Homo sapiens: one gene and its partner. The protein of the gene in region 1 interacts with the protein of each later gene in a biochemical or structural test. Each region holds a gene or a part of one and is shown on either strand. Other genes may lie near its edges.

The links.
Region 2: the proteins of PKNOX1 (region 1) and PBX1 form a complex in vitro, tested with the Homo sapiens proteins (2 studies listed by BioGRID).

Annotation. Positions count from the first base shown.
Region 1 is NC_000021.9:43,012,561-43,019,584, reverse strand, and holds part of PKNOX1 (homeobox protein PKNOX1), read right to left. Parts: intron 6,518-7,024; coding exon 6,347-6,517; intron 2,678-6,346; coding exon 2,578-2,677; intron 1,453-2,577; coding exon 1,355-1,452; intron 1-1,354. UniProt on the Homo sapiens protein: Activates transcription in the presence of PBX1A and HOXA1.
Region 2 is NC_000001.11:164,554,979-164,562,207, forward strand, and holds the start of PBX1 (pre-B-cell leukemia transcription factor 1), read left to right. Parts: upstream 1-4,205; 5' UTR 4,206-4,844; coding exon 4,845-5,035; intron 5,036-7,229. UniProt on the Homo sapiens protein: Transcription factor which binds the DNA sequence 5'-TGATTGAT-3' as part of a heterodimer with HOX proteins such as HOXA1, HOXA5, HOXB7 and HOXB8. Binds to the DNA sequence 5'-TGATTGAC-3' in complex with a nuclear factor which is not a class I HOX protein.

The DNA of each region.
Region 1 (7,024 bases):
GGCAACAGAGTGAGACTTCGTCTCAGAAAAACAAAAGTAATGCTTTCTCAATGTTGGGTAGAAAGGATTTTCAACCCAGAATTCTACAAGTAAACAGACTGCATATCAAATATGAGATTAAAATAAACTCATTTTTAGGTTTGCAAAGTCTCAAAAAAATGTGTGTTTTTTTTTTGTTTATTTTATTTTATTTGAGATGGAGTTTTGCTCTTGTTGCCCAGGCTGGAGTGCTGTGGCACGATCTCGGCTCACTGCAACCTCCACCTCCCAGGTCAAGCAATTCTCCTGCCTCAGCCTCCCGAGCAGCTGGGATTATAGACATGCACCCGACATCCAGCTAATTTTTGCATCTTTAGTAGAGACGGGGTTCCACTATGTTGGACAGGCTCGCCTCAAACTCCTAACCTCAAGAGATCCACCCATCTCGGCCTCCCAAAGTGCTGGGATCACAGGTGTGAGCCACTGCACCCGGCCAGAATCAATGTTTTTTTTTTTTTTTTGAGATGGAGTCTCACTCTGTCGCTCAGGCTGGAGTGCAGTGGCACGATCTCAGCTCACTGCAACCTCTGCTTCCCGGGTTCAAGCGATTCTCCTGCCTCAGCCTCCCGAGTAGCTGGGATTACAGGCGTGCACCACTGCACCCAGCTAATTTTTGTATTTTTAAGGACAGGGTTTCACCATACTGGCCAGGCTAGTCTTGAACTCCTGACCTCGTGATCTGTCCACCTTGGCCTCCCAAAGTACTGGGATTACAGACGTCACCGTGCCCGGCCCAGAATCAATGTTCTTAAAGTAAGAACTGATAACACACACCAAAGACGGGCAAGGCTCAGCAGCCGCAGAGATAGCGCCACTGCACTCCAGCCTGGGTGACAGAGAGGCCTGAAAGCCCTGGCCCAATGACATTGTCATGATGGAGGTGTGGGCCAGGCTCACTGGTCTGAAAAGCTTGCCTGGCAGTTCTGCCGTGCCCTTTGTGGGGACCCTGGGGAGTGTGTGCCTACAAGACCTCTGCCCCTGGTGCACGTGCACATGATCCAACGTTAGCACTGGATAACTCTGTGTGTGTGTGTGTGTGTGTGTGTGTGTGTGTGTGTGTGTGTGTGTGTGGGTGGCAGGGGGTGGTTATGAGTGACTTTTTTCCTGTTCTTTCAGAATTTTCTGAACTTTGCAAATTCTCTACAATGCGAGAGATAAGAGTACAAAGAAACAAAACACTGACATTCAGAGAAACCAGAAATTGCTACACAAGACAAAGCTCTTCAGGCAGAGGGAAGGGCTCATGCTTGTTCTACCTGTGCCCCTATGTGGGCAGCACTCGCCCCCAAAGCCTTCCATAAAATGGCGCACGCACCTGGGAGTTCTGGATCCTAATTGTCCCAGGCGACAATGTCTGTGTGACCACTTGGCCTTGGGGAGTGACGACCGTGACAGGCTGATACACTGTGCCACCTCGAAAGGGAGAATAAAAATATGAGGCTGCTTTTAAGTCTCAATGATTTAAACCATTCTTCTTTTTTTTTTTTTTTTTTTTTTTGTAGAGACAGGGACATTGCTTTGTTGCCCAGGCTGGTCTCTAACTCCTGGCTTCAACTGATCCTCCTGCCTTGGCCTCCCAAAGTGCTGGAATTACAGATGTGAGGCACTGCGACCAGCCCTCTTCTTGATATACTTACAAAAGGAATAAAATCCCTGGTTTGATGAGCTTTTTAATCATTTCAAAAGATCAACAATCCTTTGCCAGTTGACTTGTCACTATAAAGTATCAAAACAAACTCCCTGGGTGGGCTACTCGGGCACCTGCAGCAGTGGGTGGGCAGGTGGGTGGGCGCTATGTGCCTGGCAGCCCACACAGCCCGGCTCACACACCACCAACTGACCTGGGGTGTGAGGGCTCCCTTCCTTTTGCTAGCCTCTGCTTTCTACTATTTCCTAAAATTAGCACATGTTAAGGATTTGGCCAAGGGTACTAAATAATAACTATTTTAATTCTAGTTATATTTTTGGATCAATGGTGCTTTTTTTTTTCCCACTGAGGTTTCCCTTTGTGCTATTATGTGAGGTCTTTGGTGTAAATTTCTACCCCTCCCTCTTTGCCGTGTCCCATTTCCATGATGCTTTGTGTTTTCAATGTTCTCTACGCATCAGGGAACTCTGGAATCTGTCCCTTTCCTGTAACGGTTTTGTTCTACAAGTAATACCAATGCTAAGACTGCATTTTTATTTGTCATCAATTAATGATAAAACTTAAGATTTTCACGGTGCTATTAAAAGCACAACAAAAAGCTATGTTATTTGAAAATGACAACTGGTTTTTGGTGTATATTTTCAATTCCTACATAAAACCTTTTTTCTTTCCAATATATTTTTGGTAGAGAAACAAAGAAACACAATCTGCATAAAATATTTGTTATTGAGTATTAACAAGAAAGAGGCATTCAGAGACCTCTAGCTTCTAACATTGCTATATTAGAAAATGGCATGAACTTGAAATTATATTTATACTGTCATTCTAACACACAGGACCATTTTCTGCAAAAACTCATGGAGAGTGTGTCCATTTTTCTGTCATCGTACCTGCCACCGTCGCCATGGCTACGTTTCCCTGCTGCAGCGCGGACGCCGGCACCACAATTCCCTGAGGGCTGATGGTGCCTGTGATGGCACTTTGAATCTGCTGCAAGTCAGAACACACATGTTGAAGGAATTACTAGAAAACGGAAAACCCATGTTTAAAACTTTAACATAAGTAGCATAATGACACCATTAAAAAAGGAAAGAGAAGCTTGAGGGAAAGAACATCCTCAGATGACGCGGCTTCAGAATGCACGCAGCACACACGGAAAGCAAGAGATGTTCAACTGTGTATTAAACACAACAAGCCAGCCTGCAACGTCAGCCTGCACTGTGGCTTCCAAAAGATTATCTTCATCTCACTGCCATATTCCACGTGCCTTACAGCCCAGGAGTATATCGAGGAAGACCCTGCTTTCTGATCACACATCTTTTTCATTAGACTTGGCTTGGTGGACTCTTGAGTTTTCCATGAACCAAGCTCTCCCTGACCGATAAGAGCATTCAAGAGATTATAGCACAGGCCTGGGAGGCACTAGAAGTGACCAGGGCTGAGGTATTCCAAGCTGTGCTGGGGAGTCAGCCCCTGGCACCCACCTTGACTCTTGACCCCGGCACGGACTAAGTGTGATCTTGGCTTTCCCCAGTGTTCTTGCTTGTACAGTGCTTGGAACTGTGCCCGGCCTACAGCGAGCCCCATGCAAATGTTTCTACATGCCCCATGGAGGACTCTATGCATCTGGGGTTAGATCCACATGGGCCACTTTATCCACTGACTGTGACGCCTGGGTGGGCAGCTGGCAGGGGAGAGGAGCCTCCAGTGCCGGGCCTGGCACACTCATGTGCCCTGACATGTGAGCAGTTACATAGCATAAGGGGACGCCACCCCAAGGCGGTGATTCTGTGGGCCATCATCGAGCGGAATGTGTAAGCTTAGTGGCTACGCTTAAAGCCTGCCACATTAATTAGGCTGTAATAAAAGTTAAGCTAGTCAAATCAATCATCCCAGCTTCCACCTTAAGATCTTAGAAAAAGAGGAACATCATGAACCGAAAGCAGAAGAAAGGAAATAATAAAGATCAAGGTGAAATCAATGAAACTGAAAACAGAAAAACAACCAAAAAAATCAATAAAACAAAATACTGTTCTTTGAAAATTACATAAACCTCTAGAAAGACTGACTAAAAAAAAAATAGAGACACAAAAGATCAATATCAGAAATAAAACAGGAAGAGATCACTATAGACCCTGCTAACACCAAAAGGCTATGAAGAGAATACTAGACCAACTCTAAACTCCTAAATTTAACATCTTAGGTGAAATAGATCAATTCTATTTCTCAAACATTTAAGAAATAACACCAAGTCTACATAATCTCCAGAAAAAAATAAGAGGAGGGAATACTTCCCAATCCATTTTATGTAAGTTTGTGTATTTTGATACCAAAACCAAAGACAGTATGAAAAACAAAACTATACACCAATATCCCTTACAAATATAGACAAAAATGCTGAACAAAATATTAGCCAATAGAATTCAAGAATACATATGAAAAGAATTATGTGCCATGGCCAAGTGGAGTTTATTCCAGGAATAGAAGGCTTGTTCAATATTCAAAAAACCAATCCATGTAATGTCCATTATTAACAGGCTAAAGAAGAAAAATCACATAATCATATCAATCAATGCTGGAAAAGCATTTAACAAAATTGAACAAAATAAAATCTCTCAGAAAAAAAGCAATATAGGATAACCTCCTTAACTTGATAAAGAGCATCTAGAAAGAAACCTGCAACCAACATCATCGACAGTGAGCGACTGAAAGGTGTCCCCTAAGGCGGTGACAAGGCAAGGATGTCTGCTCTTGCCACTCTTATTCGAGATGGCACAGGCCAGGAAAGGAAATGCTTGGGTATAATTCTAAAAACGCATGTACACAACTTATGTGTCAAAAACTACAAAGCACTGATGAATGAAATCAGAGTTGTCAATCAATGGAGAGACATGCCATACCTGTGGACTGGAAGACTTAATGCAGTAAAGATGTCAATTCTCCCCAGATTGATATACAGGTATAATACAATTCCTATCAAAATCTAAGCAAGATGTTTTTGTAGCTCTAGACAAGAGCATTCTAAAATTTATGTGGACAGGCAAAGGAACCAGAACAGCTAAACAATTTTGAAAAGGAATCACAGGGTGGGAGGAAACAATGTGCCCAGCTTTGAGAGTTATTCTATAGAGAAATCCACTCAAAATGGATCACGGATTTAAATGCAAAATGGACAACTATAAAACTTTTGAGGCCAGGCATGGTGGTTCACACTTGAGCCCAGGAGTTTGGGACAAGCCTGGGCAACATAGTGAGACCTTGTCTCTATTTAAAAACTTTTAGGAAAAAACTTAAGACGAAGTCTTTGGGACCTAGGGTTAGGCAAAGAGTTCTTAGACTTGACACCAAAAGAATGATCCATAAAAGGAAAACCTAATAAATTGAACTTTATTAAAATTAAAAAGGCTGGCTCTGAAAAAGACCTGTTAAGAGGATGAGAAAAATACTTAGCTACTATAGACTTGGAGAAAACACTTGCAAACCACATATCCAACAGAGAACTAGTATCTACAATAAGCAAAGAACTCTCAACACTCAGAAGTTAAAAAAAAATCCAACTAAAAAATGCGCAAAAGACGGCCAGGCGTGGTAGCTCATGCTTGTAATCCCAGCACTTTGGGAGGCCAAGGCGGGCGGATCACGAGGTCAGGAGATCGAGACCATCCTGGCTAATACGGTGAAACCCCGTCTCTACTAAAAATACAAAAAATTAGCCGGGTGTGGTGGCAGGCACCTGTAGTCCCAGCTACTCAGGAGGGTGAGGCAGGAGAATGGCATGAACCCAGGAGGCGGAGTTTGCAGTAAGCCGAGATCGCGCCACTGCACTCCAGCCTGGGTGATGGAGCGAGACTCTGTCTCAAAAAAAAAAAAAAAAAAAAGGCAAAAGACATAAGCAGCAGACATTTTATCAAAGAAAATACACAGAGGGTATAATAATGTTCAACATTATTAGCCATCAGGGAAATGAAAATTAAAACCACAAAGAAATATTAATATCACTACATATCATCAGAATGGCTAAAACACAATAGTGCTTCCGCATGGATGAACCCTCCAGGCATTCTGCACAATGAAACAAGCAAAGGATCCAGAAGGACAAACACTGTACGATTCCGCTTAACATGAGAGACCTGGAGTCATCGAATTCACAGAGACAGACAGTAGAACGGTGGGTTCCAGGGGCTAGGGGAGGGGGAATCCGGAATGAGTGTTTAATGGGGTCAGAGTTTGAGTTTGAGAAGATGAGAAAGTTCTGGAGATGGATGGTGTTGATGGTTGCCCAACAATGTGAATAAACTTAACACCATTGAACTGTAAATTTTAAAATAGCTAAGATGGTAAATTTTATATTATGTGTATTTTACACAATTTTTCAAAAGAATAAGTAAAATATTTTCAGAAGAAATAAAAGAAAGAAATGAATGGAATTGTGCCTTCCATAAACATGGGACCGGGGGCCCAGTATGCAGATTGAGGACTCACTTCATAATCTGAGGGAGTTCATTCCCAAACCAGGCTGGGGTCAGAGACCTAGAGGGTCCTTCTTGTAGAAAGTCATAAAGATGACCCAGTGAATTCTGAAAGAGCTGGTGGTCTCATGACTCAATGCAGATGTTCACAGTGGCAGAGAGGGAAAGCGAGACCCCCAAATGTAAGTACCTGGGACTGCACTGGTGAGTACGGGCTTCCAGGCTCTCCACTCAACAGAGTTTCACTGTTCATTTTTGTTTTCAGACAAGCAATGTATCGACTGCAGAAATCTTTGCAGAGTTCGTTAACCTTTTCCAGCTCAAGAAGATGAATGCGCAAAACCTGGATTGCTTTTACCATCTAGAGCAGAGAAAATGAAGACTTTCAGAGAAAAAGGTGGCATTATTGTAAGTTATCATGATCCTACATACCAGTTCTTAGTCATTAGATAGAACCATCTCTACTGCCAATAACCAAAGTGGAATAACATCAGAAATCCTCTAAACTGATGTGTTGTTCCGGTGCCACTGACCTGGGCTTTGGTGTTTGGCTGCATCTGGTGTGCAGGGAAGACAAAGGCGCGTGGTGGTGACCTCGGTGCATCCCAGTGCTAGGTGTGTGGGCTGTGAGCCAAAGCCTAGCCCTTCCACTGATTCGCTCTGTGGCAGGCAGGACAAGTGACTCACCCTCATCTACTCCTGTTTCTACATCCACAAATAGTGATACATCCACACTCACCCTAGGCTAGTGCTACATTTTCATAAAGTTCCATTTTGGTGTCTTTGCCTAGTTCTAGATCCTCAAGATTTTCTCTTGCGATTTTTCTAAAAGTTATATCATTTTGTTTTGTTTTGTTTTTTGAGACAG
Region 2 (7,229 bases), on another chromosome or scaffold:
GCTAATTTTGTATTTTTAGTAGAGATGAGGTTTCTCCATGTTGGTCAGGCTGGTCTCGAACTCCTGACCTCAAGTGATCCAACCTCCTTGGCCTCCCAAACTGCTGGGATTACAGACGTGAGCCACCGCGCCTGGCCAATAATGACTAGTGTTTTTAAAATGTGATTCAGTGGGCTTCACTTATTATTCTGAAAAAAATACAGCATGATTACTAGCATCATTAATTGTTTTAAAATATATTTGTTAAATGTTTATTATAATGAGAGCCCTGCTGAGATATGGAAGGAATAAAAAAGCATTATCCATTCCTTGTCACAACCCATAAGCTATGGAAATTGCAAGTATTAGTTTCTTTTCAGAAGTTTCTAAATGCAAATAAAATATGATTATAATTTCTTTGTTAATTTAATTATTTTTTGAGACAGGGTCTCACCCTGTTGCTCAGCCTGGAGTACAGTGGCATGATCATGGCTCATTGCAACCTCTACCTCTCAGGCTCGAATGATCTTCCTGCTTAAGCCTCCTGAGTAGCTGGGACTACAGGATAGTGCCACCATGCCCGGCTCATTTTTAATTTTTTTTTTTTTTTTTTTTTTTTTTTACAGAGACAGGGTCTCACTATGTTGCCAGGCTGTTTTCGAACTCCTGGGCTCAAGCAATCCTCCTATCTTGGCCTCCCAAACTGCTGGGATTACAAGTGTGAGTCACTGCGCCTGGCCTGAAGATTCTATTTCACCTATGGTACTTCCTCCTCTTTATGTCCTTTATTCTCTGTAATGTATTAAAGAATAAGAGTTTTTACATCATACTTTGTCTAGTAATTCTACTTTTAGGGACCTTGTTTTCTTCATCTGCAAAATGGAGATTGTAACCTCATAAGGAAGTTATTTAAATGAAGTGTTAGATTGTTAAAACTAAGTGGTAATGTACAATCAGTGCCTGAAACACAATCAGCAGTCAACAAATTCTATTTATATCTATAATTATTATTATATTAATGCCATTGCATTTTTCTCATTCAAGCTTGAAGACATTTCTTTTATCCTTCCCACTCACATAAAATCAATTATAAATTTCTATTGACTCTGTCTTGAAGATCTTCCTCAAAATGGTCCTCTCTTTTCCATTTCTACTGCTGCTTTCCTAATTTCATCTTTCCTTGCCAAATGATTTGGGTAAACAGCTAATTGTTGCCCAAAGTGTTGAGTAACCAGATAATTCTTCCCGAAACATGCTCTTCTGTTCCTATCTGTGAAAGAAAGAAACAACTTACCTCAGTGTATCCCTAATGTCCATCAAATAAAACACAAATGTTTCTGTTAAAAGTCTTTCCAGTTGGGCGCGGTGGCTCACTCCTTTAATCCCAGCACTTTGGGAGGCCAAGGCAGGTGGATCACGAGGTCAGGAGTTTGAGACCAGTCTGGCCAATACAGTGAAACCCCACCTCTACTAAAAAAAAAAAAAAAAAAAAAAAAAAAATTGCCAGGCCTGGTGGCGGGTGCCTGTAGTCCCAGCTACTTGGGAGGCTGAGGCAGGAGAATCACTTGAACCCAGAGGGTGGAGGTTGCAGTGAGCTGAGATCGCTCGACTGCACTCCAGCCTGAGTCACAGAGTGAGACTCTGTTTCAAAAAAAAAAGTCTTCCCAATCACACCTAATAACATTTCCATTGTGCCTGAAGAGATAGCCTGTACTTCCGTCAAGTTCATTAACCTAGCCCTCCAGATCCAGTTCATCCTTTAGATCCACCGCGAAGCCTTCTATTCACTCGAACTGGTTACTCCCTTCTCTCATCTCTTATAGGATGTCTAAGGGCTTGTTATCACTTCTATAGCATTTATTATGTATTGAAATATATCTGGGCAACACTCTAGAGTAATGGTTAAAAGCATAGCTATCGGGGTAAGACAGTTGCAATGATTAAATTAACAAAACACCTTGAATATAATACTTAATTATAGTATGGAGTCAATAAATATTACCTATTTTTAGTATCATTGTGTATACACATCTTATTTCCCTACTAAAATGTTCCTAGATGACAATGATCTTCTGGAATTGATGGTACCTTTTCCAGTACTTTGCCTAGAAAGATTTTATTAGGTTTGCAATTAGAATTAATTACTCACAAACTGATTTCTTATAGACTCTAGGTTGACTTCTTTTCATGCTTTAAAATGTGGTAACTTCGTCTCTGTAAGGGATATGCTAACTCTCAATCACTGTGATTGATATGTGATTTGAGTATATAGTTTTGTGCTCAACTTTTGATTAGTGTTAATTTTTAAAAAAACAGTTTAAAAATCAGGATATGTATGTGAATAAAACAATTGTTATTAAGTAATATAACATCATAATTACAATTAATACTCTGTATTGCATGCCCTCATACCAATAAGTGCCAAGTAGCTTGCTAAAAACTGCTTTGAAATGCTTGCATCAGTGCTCCTTATCTTGCCAAACTTGTTTTGCGTAATGATTGGTGAGAAGAATAACATTTTATTTGAGGATCTCGAAGCACCTGGCAAGGCTGCTTTCCATTTTGCAGATTGGTTACACTGCGCTTGCAGATTGGTTACACTGCGCTTTGCATTTCCTTTGCTATACTGCCATCCAGGAAGAGGGCTGGCTACACAATAGAATATTTTATATTACAAAATATTCTGGACATTTCCTAAGTAATTGGCCTGCTATTTTATCTTATATTCATTGTGACTGTGTACACAGTCAGATTTTTCCCTCTCACTTTGCCCAATGAAAAGATTGGAAGCAAATTTGTGTCTGTCTGGAGCTATGATACTGGACCTTAGTTATGACTTTTGTTGGCTTTTTTCTTGATCCCATTGTATTTATTTTTTATTTTTTCCTACCCATTTTCAATTGGAGTTGTCTTGTTGGAATATGTACCCTTTTAAGCACCTCAAGTTTCCTTTCAAACTGGACAGGCAATAGACACATAACTAATTTTTAACACTATTCACACATTTCTGTTAGACTGAAGCAGATTGTGCAGTGGAAATACTAGGCCTTTGGAGGGAGTCACACTTGGGTTTAAATTCCAGCTTTGACACTTAATAACTGTGGACCTTGGACAAATTATTTAACCTTTCTGAGTTCCCTCTCTGTAAAATGGAAATAATAATCCATAACTCACAAAGATGTCTTGGGGATTAAATAAAATAACTCATGCAAATTACTTGGTGCATAGTAGGCATTCAATAAATGTCAGTTCACTTCTCTTCCCAGTTAATAATGCTTATTAGACTATATTAAAAACTAGAACTAGACTGTGATAATGCATTTCTTTATTAGGTATTTAAGCCAAATAACTAATTTCCCCCGGGGGAAGAGAGAGAAATGTTGAATTAGTTTCATTTGGTGAACTTATTTATTAATCTTTCTTTTTCTTGAGCATTTTTCAGTTTCATAGTCCATAATTTAGTTTTCATGCAGCAAAAATGACACAGTTTGGTATTCTTTTCACCTTTACTGTGCTAGAATTGTTTTTTTAAATGTATCTATTATTACATCTGCCACTTATTAGAGATCTTTATTAATTATATTAACAGCTCGATTGTGTTTCATAACTACGTCGTGCTGACAAACTTGTGCTCTCAGCAGTTTCCCTGAGGTCTAAGCATTTAAAAGAATCAAGTTTTAAATGACAATGCCACAGCAAAAGAAAAGCAGGGGTGGGCGGGAAGACGCACACCGTCTGTGTTCTTTCGTGTTAATTTTATATGTTTGCATTTAAGTGGAGCCACATTTTCCTCAAGGACGCAACCTAAGTAAGGCGAGCAGGGAAAGTGGAAACTAAGTGAGCTGGAACTACAGTACCATTGCACCTTTAAGGACTGGAGACTTGCTATTAGCTCGGCCTCCTTCCCGGCCCACCTCTGAACTCTGATTGACAGGGCGCCGGGCGAGGAGGAGCTGAAGGAGGCTGGAGAGGAGGCGCCGTGAGGAAAGTAGGGGAGGAGGGGGCCGGTCCTTTATCTGGTGGCCAATCAGGGAAGCGGGGAGGAGCTCCAGGCGCCCTCCTCCCTCCTCCTCTCCCCAGCCTCCCGGCTTCCCCGCCCCCTCCCCTTCCCTTTGCCCCCTCCCCTCTCCTCCTTCTCGTCCTCCTCCTCCTTCTTCTCCTCCTCCTCCTCCTCCTCTCAGGCTGTGGTTTTTCTGTATATGTTTCTGGAGTCCTGAGCCTGAGCTAAACAAAAGCAGGAGGCTGACGGGGCTGCTGGAGTTTGCAGAGACACGGAGGAGGAGAGAGCCTGTGCTTTGCCTGCCGCCGCGGCTGGGGGAGATCTGGCTTTTGCAACAGCCCACCCCCTTTGAGATCACTCTGGCCCGGAGTGGGGGTGGGGGGCAGCGGGGGGTGGGGGGGGAAAGTTTGCATTGCAATCCCCCTGCCTTCCTCTCCTTTCTCCCGATCAATGCATATTTGCAAAAGGATTAAGCCACAGATTTAAGCGCCGGGAGCCCATTTCTGCCTTGCAAAGGAGACCGGACTGAAAAACCTAAAGCCAGCTCTGATTTCTTTTCGCCAAGTGGGAAGGTGGTTTATTTTTCTTGCTTTTTGGAGTCAACACCCTTCCCCACCAGCCCTTATCCCCACCCTCACCCCGCAACCCCTTCACGCCCCCTCCCCCTCCCCCTCCTCATCCTCCCACCATCCTCTAAAGAGGCAAAGGGATTTTTTTTTTCTTTTGGTCTTCTTTTTTCCCCCTTCCCTGTTTATCCTGAAAAGGATTTGAAGACAAGCTTGAAGGATAAAAAGCCTTGGTGCTTCCCAGGAGCCGAGCCGAGGAGCAGAAGAGGAAGAGCCGGGGGCTGCCGTAGCCTTTGGAGATGGACGAGCAGCCCAGGCTGATGCATTCCCATGCTGGGGTCGGGATGGCCGGACACCCCGGCCTGTCCCAGCACTTGCAGGATGGGGCCGGAGGGACCGAGGGGGAGGGCGGGAGGAAGCAGGACATTGGAGACATTTTACAGCAAATTATGACCATCACAGACCAGAGTTTGGATGAGGCGCAGGCCAGGTGAGATGGAGGCTTTTCTTTTCCTTTCTTGGGGTTTTTTGTTTTTCTTCCTCTTGCAGGGGGAAACAATGGGAACCGAATCACCACAGCGCTTTTTTTGAAAAATGTTATTTCTTTTCTCATTTTGACAAGCAACTACATGGCGGAGGAGTAAAATTTGAAGGAGCGTTGTTATCGAAAGTGTAATCGCCCATGCCGAGATGTGGCTGTGTACATATTTGTGTGTGTGTGTGTGAATATAGGGGTATTCATTTATATCCACACAAACACACAGGCATGCCGAAAATACTGCCAACTGATCCAAAAGCGGCCCTCGGCACTTTTTACTGCTTTAAAAAAGTATCAGAGAAAGCAGAATTGTCAAGTTTTGAACAGCATTCCATGCCTTCTTGTTGAGGGGACTCTGTAACATTACGAAATAAAATGTCCCAAGAACACTTTATTTGCAAATTTAGTTGACTCCTTACCTAATTCAGCGAGTTTGATTTTCTTTCTTGACTCTCCCGTCCAAAATTAATTTTTATCTTTTCTCCTTTCTTCCCCCCCTACCCAAAATACAAAACAACAAAAAAGCAGGGTATTTCTTTGTCAGTACTTGTCAGCTATCCAGAAAATATTTTGCATTCACTTAATTTTGTTTTTTTAAAAAGTTGATGAAAAGGTGATTTTGTTTTTAGGCATATTTGTTAGTTTTAAGAGACTCAGATTTTTAGTTTAACTTTATTGTCTCCTAATTTCAGCCGGTTTACTAACCTTCCGTGACACAGACAGCTATGTAGGGTCCTTTAAAAAGGGGTGGGGGGACAAAAATCAAGCATGCTCTTTTCCCCCATGCTTCTTTCAGGACCACTTAGAAATGAAAGCATTTATGAATTTTATATATTTCAGTACTATAGGACATGAAGGTCTTCATTAAGGAAACATAATAAACTGTGTAGCCTCTCAAGTTAATCCACTGCCAGGTATATGGTTCTCTACTTCAGGATTTTACAGTAAATTCTCTTTTAAAGTAAAACATAGACTAAGTGACAACCCGCTAACAGCTTGCCCAAGGCCGAACTCAAAAGGAAGAATTTTAAAAATCTAATGACCACATATGTCTGTACAATTACCCAGCTTTGTTATATCTCCGAAGTAGCGTTTTTCTCTTTGAAAACCCTGTAAACAAATATACGCAACTCCTATACTTCAGATGACTTGGTTATATGGAGAAGACATCATTATGTGTATTTCTGTCTACGTGAAATAAGAATCTGAGTTGAGAAAATGAGAGGAAGCAGTTAAAAACATAGATGTTATGAATTATACTCAATTTTAGCTGCAAGCACATGCAACATGTAAACTCAAAAGTACTAAGGTTTACGGGTGTTTGAAAACTTGGAAATGTTGAAAGACTCAAAGTATCCTAAGTTTTGTTTAAATAGGGGAAATTTTAAAAATTAATTGGTGCTCTCTTTGAATTTTATTATCTGAAGAAAAGCTAATAGGTATGGTAAGAGGAAGATTTCCCACTGGCAATTCTCTTTTGAATTGGAACATTTTTCTCTATTATATTGTTCTAGAAGAATACTCTCAGACATACCAATAAACTGGCTTAAAAATAAGTTTGTGAAGTGGAAGGGGCTAGTAAGAATAGATACTACTTTTTTGATGTTCAGTCTCTCTTCTTTTGTGAAACTGTGGACAAACAGGGCTTGGCGACTTCCCCCTTTCAATGGCCTAGATGCAGAGAGAGATCAGATACAATTTTGGGATGGGGAAATTTTCAGTTCTTCCTCTGTAGCTGGCTCCATTTGTGTGCTGTGGAAATACAATATTTTTATAAAGCTGTGTGAGAATTTTTGTTTGCATTTGGGCCTATATATAATAATAGAATTAATTAAAACTATTTTAAAAGACCCAGGAAAGGTCTTTAATACTTTAAAGTATTTTCCATCTTTTTTTTTTTCTACCCCACATGAGAACTTACTAAAATCAACGCTAAGCTTTCTTTTTGGATAAACAATGTAACTCCACTTAGTAGATAGTATGTCCTTTTTTCCTTTTTCTAGTCACACCTTTATAATGTGTATTTATTATTTACAAAAGTAAACCATTAATATTTTAGATATAATGTATGTGTTCATTTTGATAGTCCTGAATTTTGACTTTATTACTCCCCTGCTGTACAGTACATAGGGCATGTTTCTGATCT